Homo sapiens: one gene and its partner. The protein of the gene in region 2 purifies or fractionates together with the protein of the main gene of each other region. This does not show direct contact. Each region holds a gene or a part of one and is shown on either strand. Other genes may lie near its edges.

The links. Proteins that work in one complex are often made in the same cells at the same time.
Region 1: the proteins of SEL1L3 (region 2) and TMPRSS13 purify together in Homo sapiens (co-immunoprecipitation; one large-scale study listed by IntAct). This does not show direct contact.

The regions. Positions count from the first base shown.
Region 1 is NC_000011.10:117,915,903-117,919,402, forward strand, and holds part of TMPRSS13 (transmembrane protease serine 13), read right to left. Parts: intron 2,937-3,500; coding exon 2,507-2,936; intron 1,373-2,506; coding exon 1,268-1,372; intron 1-1,267. UniProt on the Homo sapiens protein: Serine protease. Cleaves the proform of PRSS8/prostasin to form the active protein. Cleaves the proform of HGF to form the active protein which promotes MAPK signaling.
Region 2 is NC_000004.12:25,852,989-25,856,488, reverse strand, and holds part of SEL1L3 (protein sel-1 homolog 3), read left to right. Parts: intron 1-3,500.

The sequences.
Region 1 (3,500 bases), on a different chromosome or scaffold from region 2:
CTTTATGTGCATTATGACAAAGACCACCCCACCCAGTCAGACTGGTGGGGAAACTGAGGCTCAGAATGTTAATGGACTTGTCGAATTCACACAGCCTGTCGGTGGCAGAGCCAGGGTCTGTGTGGCACTAAAGCCTGCTCTGCCAGCACACTGCCCCTCCCTCAGAATCCCCTTCAGCAGCCCTGCCAGCAGACGTTTCCACACGCTGGTCCACTCCACCCTTCACCACTGGTGCTGCCTCTTTAACAGAATCCTTACTCTTTGGCCTGGGGTTTAAAGCTCTCTACAGCATGGCCCAGCCTTGCTGAACCAAACAGACGGCCCCAGGTCCCTGATAGTTCCTTCTCCACTTTGGTTAGGCGGGTCCCTTCCTCTCCCCCATGCTGTCCTTGCCACCTGGTTTCCCACATTTTCTGTGGCTGCTCATTCGCTCAGATGCCCTGCTGGGCATAATTGCTGTCCCACCTTCCAGGTCTTCATCTGGCCCCACAGCTGTAAGAAGCTATCCCCTGCATCCAACCCACACAGCTGTCATCCCCTCCTCATAGTCACACTCAAATGCATTTGCCCTTCAAAATTTCCAGCTATTCCCCCAGGAGACTGTAATCTCTCTGAGGACAGGACAGAATAATGTACATGCACATTTGCGCTGCCTAAAGTTTCCCACTGTGCTGGGCTCATAGTGGACCTCTGAGCAGAGAGCCCTGGGGCATGCCTGGGTATCTTTGCTGAAGAGAATGGGCCTGAACCCCTGAATGCTGAACACGTCATCCCATTGACTGAATATCCTTGACAGACTTTTTCCAATCAGTGTTTTCATGTGTGTTTTTTTAATAGCTAGTATTTGTAGATTTTGTTCCAGGAATTGTGCTGTTGTCTTATTTATTCCTCATAATCTAATGAAGTTGGAATGAGAACTTACGGGACACATAGTAATGAAATGGGTGAATGAATTTTGTCCCATCTGAAGATGCAGAAACTGAGCTCAGGGTGGTTAACTAACTTGCCCAAGTAAGCTGCATAGTAAGTGGCACAGATGAGAGCCAAGCTCAGGTTCCTCTGACTTCCACACTGTTAACCTGGATACCCCACAGGGGCCCCGGGGGCAGCACAGTCCAAGGCCATTTGCAGGAGTGTCCCTCTCTGGACACAGTAGCCGGGTGAGTGGGTGCTCCCCACACCTGTCTCCCCTGCCTGCCCCCATCCCTGGGTCCCACTCTGCCCAGCAGTGCCCAGAACCCACCCCTGCACCCTCCATTCAACTCACAGAGGATGATGAGCGAAACCACCAGGGCAATGAGGAGGAGCACGCACCCGATGAGCGGTAGCTGCTTCTGGCCCTCCCGCCAGGTGAACTTGGGCAGGCTCGTACCTAGGAGCAGGGCGGCAGCAGGGGAATATGAGGCTGGAGAGGAGTCCGACGAGATGGAGAGGGTGGGGGAAACAAGACTGTGGCCCAGGAGGGCCCCGTGAGGACCACTCCACCCCAGAAGTTGGAATGAGATTTTATGGGGCTCAAAGTCAATTGAATGAATGAATGAATTTTGTCCCATCTGAAAATGCAAAAACTGAGCTCCCCCTGCCTGGCACCAGCAGCGATCTTTTACTGTGCTCTCCTCTGGGCCAGCCAGGCACTTTGCCTGTGTTAATTCTCACAGCAACCTCATGAGCAGAGTCTTATTAGGCCCCTTTCTATAGATGGGGAAACTGAGGTTCGTGGAAGTGAAATCACTTGCCCAGGGTTACTTGGTGAGTTAGTGGCAGAGTAGGGATTCCAGTGCAGTGGGTCTGATACCAAAGCACTTCACCCACCCTGGAGAGGGCAAGGCTGTGGGATGGGCCCCAAACTTCGAGTGATCCTCCAAAGCCACGTATCATCCAGGCCTGTGTGTATTGTGGTGGTGGGGACAGTCTGAATTCTGGGATGGGAGGAGGGCAGCATCGGAGTGGGCAGGAACACTGATTCCTTAAGGGAAGACCCAGTCCCCAAGGCCTATTCAACCTCTCTGACTCCCTAGTAGCTAAACCACACAACCCACAATTTGGAAGGCTGGGGATGGACTTGCACACCTGGTCAGAATCTCTCCTTTTCCTCCCCCACCCACAGATGGGCCCACTGATCATGACCTTGCTCCACTGCAGACCCCAGCTTCTTAGGCAGACCCACAGGACAGCACAAGGAGAGAACCCTGTGACTAACTGGGAGACCTTGCTATTGAAACCGGTGCTCTGACCTGGGTTGTGCAGACTCCAGGGTGACAAGCTGCTTTGTTAGTCCTGGCTTCTTATCACCTACCCCCTTTGCCCCTCATTTTCCACTGTCTCAGGTTTTCATGTAATGTTTCCTTTTTGCCTCCACCCTCAGGTCCCTCACTTCCCACCCCCCTACCTCCCCTTCCCCGCATCGTTGTCTGCTATGAGAGCAGAGCACACTGGCTCTGAGATTTCCTCCCTGCCCATGGGCTGCTTCCCATCTCTCGTGGCTTCCCTACAGCATCCCCCTTACCTGGGCTCTCCCTGGTGGCCCTGGTTGCTGGTGCTGACCTGGCAGGAGATGATCGGATGGGTACAGCCCCCACTGGTGTTGCTCTAACAAGGTACACTCTGGTTGGGGAGGTTGTCACCGAGGCTGACCTGGCGGATGATGACCTGCCGGATGAGGACCTGGAAAGTGATGCCAGAGCCGGAGATGCCCGGGCTGGAGATGCCTGGGCTGGAGATGCCTGGGCTGGAGATGCCCGGCCTGGAGATGCCCGGCCTGGAGGTGTACCAGCTGGAGATGCCTGGGCTGGAGATGCCCGGCCCGGAGGTGTCCCAGCTGGAGATGCCTGGGCTGGAGATGCCTGGGCTGGAGATGCCCGGCCTGGAGGTGTCCCAGCTGGAGATGCCTGGGCTGGAGATGCTCCAGCTGAAGGTGTTCTTGCTGGAGATGCATTCTGAAAGCAGATCGAAGAGTATCCCACAGGCTGCTCCCCTGCCAACCCACCCCAGCTGTCAGCTGTGCTGCACTAGGAGATGAATGCTCTGGGGCAGCAGCTAGGGGTTGAGCAAAGCCCCCCGGACAAGGAAGCATCTGAGAGGAGGACTGTGTCCAAGGATAGAATGAAAGCTCAAAGAACCTGCTGTCCCCCAGCTCCCCTAGGGGCTCCCCTGCCACATAGGACCTGCAGAGATGGGTAGAGGGCAATGGGCCAAGTGCCCGGGGGTTGGGGGTCACCTGCTTAGGCTACGCATGTCTAGGAGGGGTTAAAGGAAGAGGCTGCTGGGTTGGTCACTCACTCTGAGACCTCGTATCAAGGGAATGTGGTCCCCCATGGGGAAAGCAAAGACCCCTTCTGCCCTCTTCCCTTCCACCTCCTACATCCGCATCCTTTTCTTTCATGTATGTGTGTTAGATTATAAAATATTGTTCTTACTATGAGCTGTAATCGCTAGTTAAGCACTAGTTAAGAAAAGCCCTGACCTGCCAACTGAAGGGGCTGAGTGCCATTGTGAGCTCA
Region 2 (3,500 bases):
ACATATTTGAGGGCTCAAGCATTTTTCAGGGCCCAGCTCTGTTGCGTGCAAAATGGATCAGTATGTTGCTTTCAAGGTGGAACATCTATTGTAGCTGCCTAAACCACATAATTTGAGGGGCACAGATGCCCCTCTTCACCCCAAATATCTTGCTTAGAGTTGCGGTGCATTTAGACTGTGCTTTTAAGGCATTATCTCCACAAAGCTGGTGTAGAAATACAGATACGTGACCTTACCTCAGTATTTTTTCATTATCACAGTAACATGGATGAACTTGCCAGATGAACAGGAATTCAGCAGAGGGTCGAGGGATGAGAAATCTTAAAAATTTAATTTGTATTTTTGGTGTGGAGAAATGGAAACGGTCTAGAATGTAGGGCAGTTGTCTGAAAAGGTCTAGAGGGACCAAATAGCTGGGAGAAGTTTGCCCCAAATGGTTAAGGTGGGTGCCAAGGTGCCACCTTCTCTGACCTCACAGTTCCCCAGCTCAGCTCTGATCCCCAGGGACCAATGAGGTGCCAAAGGGTAAGGGCTCTTTGGAAGGAATTAACGAGGCTGGGAGAAAAATAGAGAAATGATGGGGGCCCCTTACAAGAGAACTTACGAGTATAAGAAGAAGGCAGTGGGGACTCAAAACTGATCAAGTCATTTGGTTTATATGCAAGTGCCCTCAGGGCCACTGAGGCACCTGGCAGAAATGCCCATGCCCAGTGCTTTTTTTTTTTCCTGAGACGGAATCTCGCTCTGTTGTCCAGGCTGGAGTGCAGTGGCACAATCTCGGCTCACTGCAACCTCCACCTCCCAGTTTCAAGTGATTCTCCTGCTTTAGCCTCCCAGGTAGCTGGGATTACCGGTGCCCGCCACCACACCTGGCTAACTTTTTTTTTGTATTTTTAGCAGAGACAAGGTTTCACCTTGTTGACCAGGCTGGTCTCAAACTCCTGACCTCAGGTGATCCACCCGCCTCGGCCTCCCAAAGTGCTGGGATTACAGGCATGAGCCACCGTGCCCAGCCCCAGTGCTTTATTTCAGCAAGAAACACTTACTAAATTCTTACTGTGTGTCAGACTCTATCTTAGAAGCTGGAAACATAACAATGACATGGACTCTGAACTCATAATTTCTAAACAAAGGAACATGCAGATAAATTTTTAGCTTGTGTTAATGCAACCTGGCATGTGAAAATACCTATGAAGGCTGGACACGTGTCATGCCTGTAGCTGGAACTCTTCAAGTTAATTGCCTTATTTTCCTGGCAGGAAACAGCTTATAACCACACACATGACTTGAGCCAGGAAGTCAGCTTCAGCTTAATCAATATTTAGAGTGTGATGTGTTGCTAATCAGTGTTGGTTTTGTGCATAGGAAAGGTAGCCACGACTCGTGGTGAATCAGCTGCCCACAGGTCTGCTACAAGCCACCGGATGCCAGCTTCCTTCATTGCATGGGTGCCTCAAAGCACCTTCTTGAAGGGTTTAGACCATGTTCTGCACAGGCCATGCAGGGTGATTTTGAGGCCCTCTTTGGGGCCAACACACCCTCATTAACTTAAGGAAACATTGCCCCACCCCGAAGTTTCTCTTCTCTTGTACTCCAGCTGTCATTCAAGCTTCTCCTACTTGTCAAACAATCCATCTCAGTCCTTAAAATTTGATCTCTTTGCCTAGCTTAACTTCATGTTATCCTCTGACTTAGATCTTTTCTGAAAGAAACAATAGCAAAATGTCAACACTCTCCACCAGGGAACCTTTTAGAAAAATACAGAATCAAGCCCCATCAACTACACACATATGAAATGATGCCCAGTTGAGCTATTCACCCCGTTTCTCCTATATGAGAACTCCTAACAAAGCATATCTTCTGTCACCTTTTGTTCTTCAAAACTCTATCTGGGATAATAGCTTGATAATTGGCCAGGCGCTGTAGGCTCATGCTGTAATCCCAGCACTTTGGAAGGCCGAGGTGGGTGGATCACCTGAGGTCAGAAGTTCGAGAGCAGCCTGGCCAACATGGTGAAACTCGGTCTCTACTAAAAATATAAAAATTACCCGGGTGTGGTGGCACGTGCCTGTAGTCCCAGGTACTCAGGAGGCTGAGGCACGAGAATCACTTGAACCTGGGAGGCAGAGGTTGCAGTGAGCTGAGATTGTGCCACTGCACTTGAGCCTGGGCGATAGAGGGAGACTCAGTCTCAAAAAAAAAGCTTGATAATTTAGAAAAGCAGTTCGCAAACTATAGGCCTGTGGGCCTGTCCAGTCAGCTGCCTGTTTTTGTAACCAAAGTTGTATGGGACCACGGCCACACCCATTCAGTTATGTGTTGTCCCTATGGCTGTTTCAAAGTGTCCCTGCAAAACCTAAAATATTTACCATCTGGCTATTTTTCTTTTCCCAAGAAAGTCAGCTGACCTCAAATTTAGAATAGCACTATCCAGTTGAAATACAATGTGAACCACAAATTTCAAGCCACATATATCATTTTAAATTCTCTAGTAGCTATGTTAAAAAAGTAAAGAGAGGCCGGGGGCAGTGGCTCACACCTGTAATCCTAGCACTTTGGGAGGCCGAGGCAGGTGGATCACCTGAGGTCAGGAGTTCGAGACCAGCCTGGCCAACATGGCAAAACCCTGTCTCTACTGAAAATACAAAAATTAGCTGGGCATGTTGGCACATGCCTGTGATCTCAGCTGCTCAGGAGGCTGAGGCAGGAGAATCGCTAGAACCCGGGAGGCGGAGGTTGCAATGAGCCGAGATTGCCCTATTGCACTCCAGCCTGGGCGACAGAGCGAGACTCCATCTCAAAAAAAAAAAAAAAAAAAAAAAAAGGTAAGAAGAGCAGGCATAATGAATATTAATGTATTTTATTTAACTCAGTGTATCCAAATATTGTCATGTCAACATACAATTAATATAAAATTTATTAATGAGATATTTTGCAGCCCTTTTTTTTATACAAAGGGTTTGAAATTCAATGAATATTTTACACTTACAGGACATCTCAAATCAGACCAGCCACATTACAAGTGCTTAATATGACTTGTGACTACCATGTTGGATAACATATGTCTAACACCTATATACCTTGGGGTAACTTTTACTGCACCTGAGACTTTGAAACAGGTGAAAATGAAATAATCTTCATATAAGTATATGGAGAGTTTTTTTGAAACAGAATTTGAAGGGACGGCTCTGTGGAGAGTACACGGTGAAATGTGTATATGCCTTCTTATTTTTATTTTTATTTTGGAGGGGACAGGGCCTTACTCTATTGCTCAGTCTGGAGTGCATTGGCACTATCATAGCTCACTGTAACCTTGAATTTTGAGGCTCAAGTGATCCTCCTGCCTTGGCCTCCCAAAGCACTGGGATTACCAGCATGAGCCACAACACCTGGCGTGTATGTATGTCCATTATCCACAATGTTATAAGCATGGACCATCAAACAAAACTGAAACCACACTCAGGGTGCTGCATTAATTAATGAAGAAAAGTGGACTGTTG